Homo sapiens: one gene and its partner. The gene in region 2 interacts genetically with the main gene of each other region. Each region holds a gene or a part of one and is shown on either strand. Other genes may lie near its edges.

The links. A genetic interaction does not mean that the proteins touch.
Region 1: changes in TSHZ3 (region 2) and PTP4A3 together harm fitness less than expected from each alone (positive genetic interaction), as found in Homo sapiens cells (one study listed by BioGRID).

What each region holds. Positions count from the first base shown.
Region 1 is NC_000008.11:141,416,000-141,423,031, reverse strand, and holds part of PTP4A3 (protein tyrosine phosphatase type IVA 3), read right to left. Parts: intron 6,907-7,032; exon of another isoform or gene 5,675-6,906; intron 5,124-5,674; exon of another isoform or gene 5,001-5,123; intron 4,644-5,000; exon of another isoform or gene 1,645-4,643; 5' UTR 792-1,644; coding exon 687-791; intron 1-686. UniProt on the Homo sapiens protein: Protein tyrosine phosphatase which stimulates progression from G1 into S phase during mitosis. Enhances cell proliferation, cell motility and invasive activity, and promotes cancer metastasis.
Region 2 is NC_000019.10:31,346,408-31,354,032, forward strand, and holds the start of TSHZ3 (teashirt homolog 3), read right to left. Parts: upstream 3,030-7,625; 5' UTR 2,813-3,029; coding exon 2,773-2,812; intron 2,511-2,772; exon of another isoform or gene 1-2,510. UniProt on the Homo sapiens protein: Transcriptional regulator involved in developmental processes. Functions in association with APBB1, SET and HDAC factors as a transcriptional repressor, that inhibits the expression of CASP4.

The DNA of each region.
Region 1 (7,032 bases), on a different chromosome or scaffold from region 2:
CACAACTGCAGACGCTGCAAACGGCCCCAGGCCTGCAAACAGCAGGGCGTTCTGCAGAGGCCAGGCTCCTCCAGGAGGCCATGCAGGTCGCTCCAGACTCCACTCCCAAGAAAGCTTCTGTAAACGCATCTCGTCCCATCTGCCAGGGTTGCCAGCGGCAGGTATCTCTGCTGCCTCTCCAGGGCACAGTGGTCCCTCCCTCCTGTGGTCAGCGCTGACCCTTGCTCAGTCCCTCCTCACACAGAGATCTGGGCCCTGAAGCCCCTAGTCCAGCCTGGTCTAACCTGAGGCCTCATCCAGAGCCCAGCAACATCTGGGACAGCAAAGGGCTCGGGAGGGCCCCAGCCCAGGCCACGGCTGAGCACGCACAGCCTGGTCCATGTATCCCCCTGCCTCACCCCCTGCCTCTATCCACACAGCGTGGAGTCCCTCCTATCACACGCCAGCCCCCTGCAGGCCTCCCAGGGGACCCCGTTGATCCCCCAACACCCTCAACCCCAACCCCCGGGGCACCCCCATCTCCCTCCTCCAGGATCCTGTAACAGGCGACTGGGCTTTGTTCCAAGGCTGTGAGCCCTGTCTGGCCAGCCGGGGCTGGGGACCCCTCTTGCGAGGCCTGAGGGCAGCTCAGCCGGGCTTCCCAGACACCTGGGCCACCTGCCTGCCACACCTCCGTCTCCACTCACCTCAATGAAGGTGCTGAGCGTGGCGTTGGTGGGGTTGTGGGTGATGAGGAAGCGCATGTGTTTGTAGCTCACCTCCACCGGGGCCGGGCGGTTCATCCGAGCCATGGCGCCTCCCGACGGGCCCGGCAGGGCAGAAGGGACTGCAGAGAAGGCTGGGGACACGACCTGAGAAGTCCCCACACACCCCCAAAAAATGAGGAGAACGAGATCCCTGTGCTTGTCCAAGAGAAACGAGATTTAAAAACCCACCCCCATACCCCGCACAAATATTGTGCAAATACTTGGGTGTGGGGGAGGAAGCTGCCCACTGTTTGGATAATTAAAAAAGAAAACCCAACTCTTAAAAAAGAAAAGGAACAAAACAGCCCGCCGCCCCCCCCAACCCAACCAAAGTAAAGCGGGCAACTCCAAACTCCCGTCTCTCAGAGCTGGATAGTCATAAAGAGGCAAAAAATAAAAAGAACAACCAAAAAAGCTCAGCAAAGAAAACTTAAAAACTCAAAGTGAACCCGGCCGCCAAGCAGTGTCCAGAGCTGGACCCCACACCGGGGGCGCCCTCTCCACATTGGTGGATGGGCAGACAGCCCCCTTCACTCAGAGGTGGGCCCCAAGCCCCCAAGGGCCAGAGGAAGAATGAACTTGAACTGAACCAACTCCAGCTGCCTTGGGCCAGGGGTCACGGGCAGTGGCCGTGGGGACAGCGGCCTCTGACGTGTGGGGCCTGTGTCACGTTACCCCATCGGGGTACGGTGAGTCCTGGAGTGGGGCAGGGGGCTCAGGCGGTAGAGCTGGCCCCAGGCTGGGCAGCAGAGGCCATCGGCAGGCGAGGGCAATGGTGAGAGCCAGTGGCACGGGGACCCCTCAGCAGGAGGCGCGGCGACCCTGGGCGCAGCAGTGCTTAGGGCTGGGCCCCGTGGCCCACTCCATGAACCCCAGGTGGGTCCACAGCACACAGCATCTGTGGGGAAAGACGAAGGAAATGAATAGAAAGGGATCACAGGGGGCCCCGCCTCCCACAAGGGGTTCATGCCTGTCATGAGCCCACAGTCACAGGCGACACCTCTCCCAGAGCCCTCCTCCTGACCATGCTGAGAGAATGACCCTTTTGGGTCTATTTCCTTATATGGGAGCACAAGGAAGCACGGCTCCTGCCAGGACTGACCCAGGGCCCAGAGGCGACAGGGTAGCCACCACACAGCCAGCAGGGCATGACGGAGGACAGAGGGGACAGGGATTTCAGGGACACACACACCCCCGAGGACATGATGAACCCCAGCACACAGATGACAGATCCCTCTGTGGGGACAGAGGCCGAGTTCCTAAGAAGCCTGAGCCTGGCCCCTGCCCACCTGCTGTGATCTGCGGAAACTCCACCCCAGGACAGCTGCCCTCTCCTCTTCCGATTCTCAGCCACTGTGAACATCTGAGCCCAGGTGTCTCTGGGTGGCCCATCCTCAGGGAATGGGGCCCAGGCACTCGGTCAGTGCTGCCAGCACAGGGAGGTGAGGGGCCTGGCCCCACACGCGGCCGTGGGCCACCCTAATCGCCTCTTGCTTTCTGCAGAAAGTCTCCTGCCTGTCAGCAGCCCCCTGTCCACCAGTGTCCCCCCGCCACTGTGTCTCCACTGCTCACACAGGTCTCAGCCAGGCTCGGGGATAAACAGGCCAGCTCTGCCCCTCCAGGAGCTCAGGGAGGCGGGGACAGAACACGCCAATGGGCCAGCCATCAGGCACACATGCCAAGGTGGTGACAGCACAGGTGGCCAGGAGTGGGTTCACACCATGACAGGGCCCTGAAGAGGGGAGGCGGCAGGGGGGGCCACAGCAACCCAAGGCACCTCCACGCCTGCCTCTCTCCCTTTCTGGGTCTCATGACCCCAAAGCTCCCAGGCAAAGGGGTTCCAGGAGCACGCAGCCCCCTTCCCTCTCTACGGAAGGGCTGGGAGGCCTTGAGCAAGGTGCCGGCCTCTTTGTTACCCCATGAGCACGATGAGGGGTGACACAAGTGACCCAAGCTGTATTTGGGCACTGCTGCTGAGGGGTCCCCGCACTGCTGGCCCTGGCTGTGACCCAGCTGTTAGCAGACTCTCCAGCCCCCTAGACTCAACCCAAGCCCGGCCCTGTCACTACTGCCTGCTACCCAAGGAAAGGCACTTCAGGGCCCCTCGCCCAGCAGAGCCCTCCATTCCCCAACCCACCCCCTCTCACCTGTGCCCCTGCCCCAGCCCCAGCACCCCCTTCCCAGCTGCCCACCAGGCAGGCTGGGCCCTTGGAGCTTCAGCCCAGGTGCAGGTAGGGCTTGAGGCCTGGGCCCCTGGACTCAGAGGGTGGCTACCTGGGACAGTGGGCTCCTCCCTGCCTGCCCTCCACACCCTGGGTGGCAGCCAGTGCTCATGGGCTCAGAGCAGCCGCCACACCTCAGGCTCTGTCCACTGCATGGTTCTGGGAAGGTTAAAATGGGCGGTGGGTGTCAGGCGCAGTGGCTCACTCCTGTAATCCCAGCATTTTGGGAGGCCAAGGCGGGCGGATCACCTGAGGTCAGGAGTTCAAGACCAGCCTGACCAACATGGAGAAACCCCATCTCTACTAAAAATAAAAAAATAAAAAATGAGCCAGGCATGGAAGTGCATGCCTGTAATCCCAGCTACTCGGGAGGCTGAGGCAGGAGAATCGCTTGAACCCTGGAGGCAGAGGTTGCAGTGAGCCGAGATCGCTCCATTGCCCTCTAGCCTGGGCAACAAGAGCAAAACTCCGTCTCAAAAAAAAAAAAAAAAACCGGTGGTGGGGTGGGACCCCCAGAAGGAGGTAAAGGTGGAGACAAGGATACTGTCCCTGGTCCCGCCAGTCCCCACCTTGCCCGACTGGAGGGAGCACAGGCTCTGAGTGTGGGTGAGGGAAGCCACCACGTGCTAACAGCACACAAACACCTGGGTCCCTCTTGGGGCAGCAGGATGTCCCTGTGTGTGTGCACACGGGAGCCGAGCTCATGTTTACAGAAAGAAAGGAAGAAAAGCACCAGAGAAACCACAGTATTGGGCCTCTCCCTGAGGGGCTGACCAACCCCTCACACCTACAGCTGCCAGGGACCCAGGAAGACCCCACAGGCACCAGCACGTGGCCTGGACCTGCTGCCTAGTGGCCCTGCACAGGTCCTCAGGGCTGCAGGCTACTGGGAGGGAGGAGGCTCCGAACCACCCCACACTACCCCCCACTGAAGGCCTAAGGATGCCACACATCTGCCGGAATCAGGGGGTTAGCCTGGGCTACGCTCAGGGGTCACAGCCCAGGCTAGAATGGGGTTAGGGGTCCAGGGAGAGGCTGGACCAGGGTCTTGCCACACATCCCACTTGTCTCTGCAGCCTAGGGCCCCTACCCCTGCCCCAGGTGAGAGCAAAGCAATGATGCCCTGGCACCACTATGTGGCTCTGCCCTGCCTGGTGGCTGTCCCCCAAGGGAGAAAACCCCTCCATAACCACACGCCCCCAGTGAGGTCACCAGGTAGGGCCCTGAGAGCAAGGGTTAAGGATCCCCAGGGATGGGCACTGAGAACTCCCTGAAGCCAAAGCCTCAGGCTTCCCATCTGCGAAATGGGGACAGGTTGCCCCTGCCTCCATGTGTCCTGAGTCGCTACCACCCCCACCAGGCCCGCGGCCCACAGCACGGGGACCCACTGGCAGCCGTGGCCCCTCTTTCCCTCCTGCTACCTCCTTCCCTCCTGCTACCAAGCCCTGCAGAACCCTTCCCAAGATCTGGCTCAGCCTCCTCGGGCCAGCAGGCCCAGAGCCCTCAGCTATTTCTCAAGACCCTTTAAGGGAGAGTCCATCCTTGTCCCTGTTTGCGAGATGAGGAAACAAGCCAGGGAGAGGGGAGAACATTCTCCACCAGGGCCACACCAGGCGTCCAGTTAACTGGGTTCTCTCTGGCTCAAATCTAGGAGGCAGGAACAACACGCAGCGCCCTGCACAGAAGAGGAAATCGAGGTTCAGGGAGGCTACCGCCCTCCTTCCCGATGGCACAGCAGCTTAAGAAGTTTGAATCCAGCCCCCGCTTCAGACAGGGCGCCCCCTGTGATTTTGGGGGAGGAGGCTGGAGGCCCGGGGCTCAGCGGGTCTCAGGAGAAGTAAGCTGCGCCGCGGTCAGGGCTGAGGCGGGCGCTCTGGGGAGTCCCGGGGAACCAGTCGCGGGTGGGGTCGTGGTAAGGGGCGCGGCCCCCTCCCTGGGTGCCAGCGGGGCTCCCGCCCAGCCCTCCGGAGGGCGCCACCTCCTCCCCGGCGGGGCTGGGGTCCCGGAAGGCCTGGGTCCGCCGCGTCCCCACCTGCCAGGCTCACCCGCGCCGCAGGCGTCCCACCGCCTCCATACGCGCCGGCCTGGCGGTGCCCACGGTGCTGGCCCTGGGTCGGGGCGCCGCCCCTCCGCCGCGGAGCCGGCTCCAGGCGCTGCCGCCACCGCCGCCTGCGGCTATTTATAGCGCCCGGGCGTCACGTGGGGGGCGTGACCGGCGGGCGACCCGGCTGCCGGGGGCTCCCACACCTGCCGCCTAAATATAGCCGCGCCCTGCCCGGGAAACAAAGGGGCCGCGCAGGGCGGGCGCGGGGAAGAGGAAGCCCAGCCAGGAAAGGGAAGTGCGGGGCGCGGCGAGGGCCGGGGGCGCTGCCGCCCGGGACCCCTCCTTCCTCCCGCCGGCCGGCCCGGCGCCCTCTCCCGGTGCGCGCCCTCCCTAGAACCTCGGAGCTCCCCCTGGCCCCCTCATGGGGCTGCACGGGCCTGTGGGCTGGGGGTCCGGAGGGCAGGAGCCGCCGGGCCGCGCTCCTGGTGGGGAGGCCTGGACAGAGCGCGCCCAGCTTTGGAAATGGAAATGCGGCCCCGCCGTGCAGGTGCTGTCCTGCACCCTGAGGAGGAGGGCGCCCGAGTCCCTCCAGTTCAGACCCCCTGCCCAGCCCACCAGCCCCACCGCCCGGGCACTCCTCCATGAATTTACTCAGCACCCACCGTGCCAGACACTGCTGTCCCCTCACTTAATCCTCACGACCCCGCTGTGGCTGGCTACGCTGGTCTCTCCTAGCGTACTGGTGAGGAAACTGAGGCACTGCAACGAGGAACACCCTGAGGTAACACCGGCAGGCAGGATTCAGCCAGGCGGCGGGCTCCACAAACTCTGAGGCTCGGCACTGATGCCCCCTCTTCCAGGAAGCCCTCCCAGACCCTCTCAAGCAAACGCCTCCCTGCGACTCCTGGCTCTGCCTCCTGGGAGCATTGTGCCGGGAACTCATGTGCTCCCCAGACTATGAACCCCAGGGATGCAGCTGGCATCACCACCCACTCTGTGCCCGCCCTGGCCACCCAGGGCCCTCAGAGCAGGGTGGAGCGGCAAGGGTGGTACCCCCAGCACAGGGTCCCTGGAGGTGTGGCCCTGCTTGCAGCTCTCAAACAACCTGGTCCCTGCAATCTGAGGTCATCAAGGGGCCCAGCTGAGAGCACGACCCCCCCTCCCCCTGCCAGGCTCTCCCCACCCACACTTCCAGAAAACATCACCATCAGCCTGGCCCAGCTGTGCCGGCAACCCTCGCCTCCTCCCACCTCCAGGTGGGCAAGCAGGCTGGGGAGCAGAGGACAGGAGGGCTGTGCCCAGTCTGAAGGGCCCCATGGGAGCCTCCACCCAAGGGCACACCAAGCCAGGTAGCCCTGCCTGCCAGCTCATGGACCCCCAAGGGTGTGAGCTCCCTGGCAAGGGCACCCACCCACGTGGGTGCACCCAGCTCCACAGGGAGACGCTAGGCTCTGACTCCTGCCCAGTGCTCTCAGCTCACCACTTCCAGCAGCGTCTCCCTGAAGGTTGAAGGCAAGAATGGGTCAGCTTCAGGGACTCTGCCCCACCAATCTCCAACCTCAGCCACTTTCTAAGGATACCAGGCTAGACACTGCATTCCACAAGCAAGACACACACCTGCCACACTGCACTGACAAACCATAACAGCACAGAGAAGCTGAGCAACCCTTCTGAGTCACACAGCCAGAAGGCAGAAAAACCACATTTGGAGCTGGGTCTTGCTGCCCCCGAGACCCTGCTTATCCCCACCCTAGCCCTCTGGGAGAGAGGACCTCTGGGGTAAGCTGCTCCTGCCCCCCAGCCTCAGTTTTCTTATCCATAAAAGGGGTCTCAGAGTGAAAGTTCCCATCAAGCTCTGTGATGCTACAACCAGACAGAGCCCGTCGCCTCTGGCGCTACAAAAGTGGACCCCAGCATCCTCATCACCCCCACCCGGGCTCCACCCCCTTGCCTGGGGCCCTCTGGCCGGGCCTGGGAGGCACCTGCTGCAGCTGGCACAGCCCCAGGCCTTTCGGAGAAG
Region 2 (7,625 bases):
TTCTGCTGGATGACACTGCGTCGAGCTTGTCATCTCCAATCATTAAAGCTGTCAGGAATCCATCAGGTTTACAGCTAATTAGGTGAACACTAATGAAGCTGGCAAAACAACTTTTCTTTTTTTATGGCTGAGCGGACCTTTCAGTTTGGAGGGGAAAAAAATTCTCGAGTATTCTCAAGGTTGCTGGGGACTGGATTTCCAGTTACCAATCAGCAGACATCTTTCTTTTCCCCACTCTCTCTCTCTATCAGTACAAAGCAATCAATTTGTCATCACTCCCAGTATGCCACAAAAGCTGGCATGAACCTTATAACTTGCAGCTGGGAAAACTAAAAAAGAGGAGAAAAAAATGGGAAGTTTCTGGTCCATCCAAACAAACAAACCACCCCCAAAAAAAAAACCTCTGTGCATACTTATCACCAGCCTAAATGTGGAGTTTTTTTTTTTTCTCTCCACTCTTCTTAAATAAGTAGCTCTTCAGTCCGCCTCCACCCCCTCCTCCACATGTCCATTAGGCAGAGGCATTCTGATAAAGTAAATCCAAAACCCGAGTATGGGAAAGAAATAAAGCACTCATGCTGCCAGCTTCTGATTGACCATTAAGCTATTGATGAATGTGCCTGTCAGGAGAGAGACAATTAAATCAAATATGAAACAAAGTCGTTTTGACGGGTCATTTTGATAGAGCAAAACCATTCTTCCATCTCCTATTAGTCCTGCAGTCAAGTTTTTTATATAATGAATTTTTCTTAACTGACCTGAGATTTCCTGGCTGGCTTTCTTTAAAAAAAAAAAAAAAGTGTGAAAAGGTTAGTGAACAGGTTGCTCTAAAAATAAATAAATAAATAAATAAATAAAGCCAACAGCAGGTTCCCTCCTCCTCTGATATTTTTCTGGAGGAAGCTATCAAATACGAGTCTCAGATTGGCAGGGTGCAACCGAAGAGATGAACTAGAGAGAGAGTTCTGAACCAAATGTAAAGATGTAATCACATATGGTTCATTGGATGGAGGCACACACATACCTTAAAATGTGTATCCAAAAAGGAAAGAAAAAAAAAATTTCAAAGACTGGAAGAAGCCCAAGACATTCCTACTACTCAACTTTGTGAAGGATTCCTCCAAAGTTTCAGAGTTTATTTTGGGTAGATAAGCTCATTGCTTGAGCCTGGAATTTAAAGTAGAAGGTGGGACGGGCAAGAAGCAAGCTCCAGGAGGTTAACTAGGGAGGCGGCAAGCTCCCTACAATCACTCCTGGAATTTTCAAACTTTCTAAATTTGGGCAACACCGAGGACAGAGAGCAAAACCTGCATCCTAAGCCCCAAACCAACCCTGTTTTCTTCTGAGATTTTCTGAAGACACTGGCAGGCAAGTACATTTCTGGGAGAAGAGAGAATTATCATTCCTTCTCTGTGACCCCGTGTAAGGGGTCTGGAGTGCAGAGTGCAGCCAACGTGTGAGGTCCCCTGGCAGTGCCGGCTGGCATGATGGAAATTATGGGCACTCAGGGCACCATGGCTACAACGCCTTCCTCCAAGATGGGCACCAGCCAATGCCCTGACCCTACTCTCTGCCCTTCCCTCTTAACATCAAAAGAGAAGTAAAAGAAAGGAAGAGAAAAGAAAAGAAAGGAAGCCCCACTTAACCCTCCCCTTCAGGGAGCATCTGAACCTCTGCACATCTGAGTGTTACTCATATCAAAATACATCACGTCCATATGTGGTCCTCTCGGCAATCCGCCCCAAATCCCAAAGTTGCACTGACAGGGCCCTCCTGACGTCACAGAGCTTGGCCTCACTATTGCAAGTGATTTATTGATGTTTATTGGGAATGAATAGATCAAAGGCAGCAGCATGACGGGCGATCAATCAGTCATCAAATCAAGGATGGCAACGGGCCAGAAACCCTTCTTCCAGGCAACATGCCCCCAACCGACATTATTGCAAAATAATGTTATGTGTGTGGTTTTTGTTTTGTTTTCAATGATGCGTTTTCCAGAAAAGAAAAGAAAAAAATCGGCTCAGTCTTAACAGGAGTTGACACTCCCGGTTAAAGAAGAAGAAAAAAAAAAAAAAAGGAGGAACAAAAAAGTACTCAGACACGTCCCAGAACTAAGTGCTATGCGGAGATGAGGGTGGGAGCAGCAGTACAAGGAGGGGGTGGGGGCGAGGAAACACAAACAGGGGAGAAGGAAACGCCAGCATCTAACATGGACTTGACAGTCATCTGACAATACCCAGACCCTGTGCGCTCCGGGTTCCACCGCTGTGCCCAGTTTGGGCCCAAGAAATGAGGAATCAATCGTGTTAGTACTAAGGTGGCCGAGGGGACCGGCTCGCTCACTCGTTCGCGCTCCCTGGCTCGGCGGACACCAGGCAGTCCCCCGGCGGTCGGCCGCTCGGAGGACGCGGAAGATGTCCCGGGGAACTCAGGTGACCCCGCCCGCCACCCACAGAAAGAGCCAGGCCGGGGTTGCTTCCCATTCCCTCTGCAGCCGGAGAGCTGAGGAGGTAGGGACCTGGCGCGGCTCAGCGCGCTCCGCGAGCGGCTCCCCAAATGGGTGCGAGAGGGAAGAGGGCAGAGCGCGGCGGGGCGTCCGGGGGGCGCCCGGTACCCGAGGCGGGCGCACGCACCCAAACAGGAGAGCGGCGCCCGGAGTTACTCAGTGCGGGCAGAAGAGCGGGGCGAGGAGCGGGGTCGCGCCCGCTGGAGGCGCGGGGCGAGCGGAGGAAGAGGAGGAGGAGAGCAGAAGGAAGGGGAAGCGGCTCGTACCTGCTGCGCGCCGGGGCGCCTGCTGCTTCCTCCTCGGCATGATGCTTCTCCGGCGACTGCCACTGCCGCCGCCGCCGCCGCTGCCGGGCTGAGGACAGGGAGGGAGGGGGCGGCGGGCCCGCGGGGGGGCGAGGCGGGCCTGCTCTCAGCCTCCCCCCCGGAGAGCGGCCGCCCGCAGGATGCTGCTGCGCCCAGGCTCTCCGCGTCCCCCCCGCGCCGCGCTCCGCCGCGAACCCCGAACGTGCGGAGGGAAGAAGGAGGGCGGGCGAGGGAGGCTCGGGGAGGGAGGAGCACGGGGGGGAGGAGGAGGCAGAGGAGGAGGAGGTGGAGGAGGAGGAGGAGGACCGCGCTGCCGGCGGAATGGGAAGTTTGACAAATCGCTCCAGAGGCCAGAGGAGGAGGGGGCGGGGAGGAGCGGCGGCCCTGCCCCCCCCCGCCCCGTCCCCAGACGAGGTGCGCGGGGTTCGGGGCTGGGGGGCGGGGAGAGGGCGGGCAGAGCGGTGGGAGGAGGAGCGCGGGAGCGGCCCGGACCGGTACTGCCCCGGCCCCCGCCCCTAGGCCGGGGGTCACGGCATCCGGGGGGACGCGCAGCCGCCGCCGCGGCCCGGGGCTCGGCGGTCCAGTCTTCTGCCCGTGGCGCGGCTGGAGCGGCGGCGTCGGCAACAGGCAAGCTTAAAGGAAAAGGAGATGATCGTGTCAATCGCCCGCCCGCGGGGGCGCCGCGCCCCCGCCCCCGGCCCCAGGCCCGCGTGGGACCCCCGCCCCGCCAGCGAAAGGGGTGCCGCCCCTCCGCCTCCGCCCCGTGCGCACACGCGGGGGCGCGGCGCCAGCCCCGCCGAGCCCGTCCCGGGGCGCTCGTTACCCCCCACCCCTATTCCCACCCAGCGTTCGTCCCCAGCCACCCCCCAGCTGCCCCACCCGGCTCGCACTCCTCTCCACCCGCCGACTCCGGAGCCCCCAGCGTGGTCCCCGGGCCGGGGCTGGCGTCCCCCGGGGAAGCCAGAGCCCACGGGCAGGCCCCCTCCAGGGAGGAGGCGGGCGCGGGCCGGGGCGGGTGGGGGCAGCCCTCAGACCCCGCGCCACCCAGCTCCTCCCCCAGGACCCGCCGTAGCCACTTCCCCCAATTTTTTTTCCCCGGACAAACTTTCCTGGGCCCGTCCCGGGGGTCGGTGTGGGAGGGGGTTCCTTCAAGTTTCCTCTCCTGACTTTGGGATGATCAGGGTCCCTCCACCCCGCCCCTCGCCCCCGGGAGCCGGGCCGCGCCCCCCATCCACGGCGCGGGCCGATCCTAGGGCGGGACGGGGGCGGGAGAAGGAAACCGGGCTCCCCTGCCCATCCCCCGCCAGGGGCTCCCCCCGAGAGCCTAGGGGGCCGCCGCGCCGTGTCCCGCGCCCGGCCTGCCGGGGCTGCTGGACTAGAGGGATTGATTATTGATTGGTGATCGGGGTCGCTGAGGCTCCGGGCCGGCCCGGCCGACTGGCCGCGGCAAGAAGGAGCTGGCTGGGCGGCGTGGGCGGCGGGGCGACGCGGGCTCACTTACGGGCGGCGGTGAGGGCGCGGGTGGGCCGGAGCTCATGCGGGCGACCCCCGGGCGGCGGCGGCTGAGCGGGAGCCGGAGCCCGAGCGGCGCGGGCGGCGGCGCATCGATGCGCTGCGGGCTCGATTGCGTCTCCCTGGGCCAGCTCTCAGGCCGGGAATGGGGCGGCCGCGCCGGGGCCGGCTCCGGGCGCTGCCGGGCGGCGGCTGCTGGAGCGCGGGGGCGGCCTCCGGGCCCACTATCCCCGAGGCGGCCCTGCGCCCGGGCGCGCCGGCTGGGGCTCTGGCGCTCTCGCAGGCCCCGAGGCCGACAGTCCCGGCGAGGGCGGGCGCCCCGCGCTCCAGCACCGGCTGCCTGAGCGCTCCTGGAGCAGCAAACCCCAGACTTCTTCCTCCTTCTCTCCTTCCTTCCTTCCCCCTCCCCTTATCTTTTTCTTTTTTTAGTCTCTTTCTCCCTCTTTTTCTGCCCTGTGTCCTTTTTATTTTTTCTCTACGACTGTTTTTGCAAGTTTGTTTCAAAAGTTCACAGCATGCTTTCTTTTCTTTTAGACCGGGAGACAGTGATCTCACCCACACGGTAAGATCAAAAGTCTCCGCTCGCCCAGCCTGCGGGCTTGGGCTGGGTCCAGACGTCTCCCAGGATGCAGATGCGCCGCCGCTGGCCTCCCCGGCTATAAAGCCGCCTCCAGCGCCTTTCCGCGCGCAGGAGCGCTCGGAGTTGTGGGGTACGGACCCCAGGCGGGGCAGGGAGTCCGAGGCGGGCTGCGGCGGGGCTCTCGGGCTGGCGGACTCGGGGGCTGAGGCGCCGTGCGCGTTGGGTGCCCGCGGCCGCAGAGGCCAGAACCGCTACTCCTCCAGGCCGGGGAGACGCGGCCGTGGAGCGTGAAACGCTTCTTGCAAGCGAGGAAACGGTGAGTTGGCCGACACCGCCGGCGGCCTCACCATTCTGGTGGCCGCGCTGAGCTCCTGTCGCCTGGAGGCGGGTTGCGCCGCACGGGGTCAGCTCCCGCCGGCTCCCAGCTCACCTTCGAAGCTCCCACTTAGGCGCGCCCGGTGCGGCGTGTGCACAGCGCGGGGCGCCGCACACGGAAGCGTGTAGTTCTCCCTGGTCGCGCTTTTCTCCTCCTTTCCATCCCCTCGCTGTTCTTGCAAACCTCTGTTCCTTCGGCCCCCTCCCACTGCGGGCCGCGGCCTGAACTCGGGTCTCCGCGTAGCCGGCCGCCGCCGCTGGGTCGCTGCCTGGCCCTCCCCCGCTCAGGCGCCGAGCGCTGTGCGATCCGCCCTAACATCTGTCCGTCCAACCATTGGCGCATCCATCAGTGTCAATGGGCTGCACATTGCAGCGACAGCCCGCCACGCACAACACGGGCTATGCGGAGTGCACGCAGCAACCATACTGCCATGTCGGGACACGCAAAAAGGCCCCCGGCCTGGCTTGGCACAGCCTGAAGGCCTAATCTGTGTTCTTTCAGCCACATGTACCCACCCCCACTTAATATCTGGACCCCCAAACATGAATAGTTTTGCAGACCATTGTAGGGATGGAATTGAAGGAAGAGGGGCAGTGTCGCCCGAGTCATTATTTTCCACCAGGTTTTCTCTGCCCTTGTGTGGGCTGGGTGTGGCTAGGAGAGAAGGAAGGGAGACTTCCCAAATCCGCACCAAGCACACTGCAGAACCGGAAGCTACCTGGATGCAAGGGCTTAAACCCCCTTCACCTGGGCCTAGGATGTGTTGTCGAGGTCGCTGGCCAGGTTTTAGCCAGGAGGTCTCGCGCTAAAACTTTTTGGCCCCGCCTGGCTGCTGTGTGTGACATGGCCTGATGGAGAGGAGCTGGAGAGCGGAGGAAAACGTGGATCCCAGTGAGAACTAAGGGCCAGATTTAGGGAGAAATAGTGTCTGGATGGCAGTAAGTCTGTAATTCACATTTTGTTTACAAAGGGAGAAAGGGCAGGGCTGTAGGTTTGAGAAGCCAGAGGTTTGCGCGGAGTTCCGTGTGCCCATTCCCCGAGAGTGCCGCTCTTGGCTGTAGTTGTTTGTTCTACCTGATTTTGCCTCTTGCCTTCAACTCCCCCATAACCCCTCCCCAAATGTCCAGAGGGCAAACATATGCGCATACCTCCCTGATCAATCCAGCCAGACCAAAGGGCCTTCCCTGTCCTCCCCCTAAGAACTTAATGGGAAGAGTGTACGGGGGACCTACTCTTGGGACATCTGCAGGGCGGCTGTACCAGGCGTTTTACCTGACTTTATTCTTACCGCAAAGATTTCCGTCTCGGTACCTGGTGCCCCCTCAGAGTCCACTACACAAACGGGTAAAATCCCGCGCGGCTATTCATTTCGCCATTCGCGAGTAAGAAGGGGAAAAGGAGCCGCTTCTAGGAGAGCACTGAGGTATGCTCGGTTCGGTTCCCGAGGAGGCCAGAAGCGGCCGCGGCGGCGCGGGCTGGAGCTCCCTCCTGCAGGGAGACACCGCGCTCTAGGGTGCGGGCTTCGCCGCCCACATCCAGTGGTCGAACTGTTTTCACGCTAGACTAGAGGGCGGAAAAGTCTGCGCCCGCGGAGAAACTAGAATTCTGTAGAATGTACACTGTGTAGAAATCTTTTCACCCCACTCTTCAGAGTTGCAGATTATCTTTGAAAAACAACAGGCTCTGGCCCTGCCAGCCCTAGTAACTTCTACCCGCCTGAGTCACTCTGAAAAGTAAGCCCCTAGGCCAGTGAGATGTCCCCACCTTTGGGAGGTGCCGCCTTTCCGGGAACATTAAAAAAAAAACCCTAAAAATAGAAGGAGGAAAAATGAGCAAAGGCGGTGGGACGACTCACCGAAACACCGAGGTGCAAATGTCCATTGGAGAAACTGGCAGTCGCATGGCAGCCAGCTGGCTCACCCAATAGCTGGGTGGTAACCTTGTGATCCCCAAACATCCCCCAGGGCCATGAAGGCAGTGCTGACCCCCACGATTGCACCTCAGGCCCGGTGGAATCCCGCTCCTCCTCCATAGTGGTGCTATGTAATCAGTAGAAAATCAGTAGAAAAGCTCCCAAATGAAGCTGCTTCAGGTCAGGGGTTAGAAATCTGCCTCAGACTTTTTGAACTCAAGGAAATCGGGACATCTGTCCCCAGAGCTACCTGTGCCCCACCCCAGGATCATTCATGACCTTAGCTACCGGGAGCTCTGCCCGGATAAGTTTTTAAAAGAGAGAGAGAAAGAAAAAAGTCACATGCAGGCAAGGCTAGGAACAGGTGTGTGCTGTGGGGACGGGCACTTGGCTCGCAACACACCACACAAAGTCACGAAGTCTGTGCCAGAAAG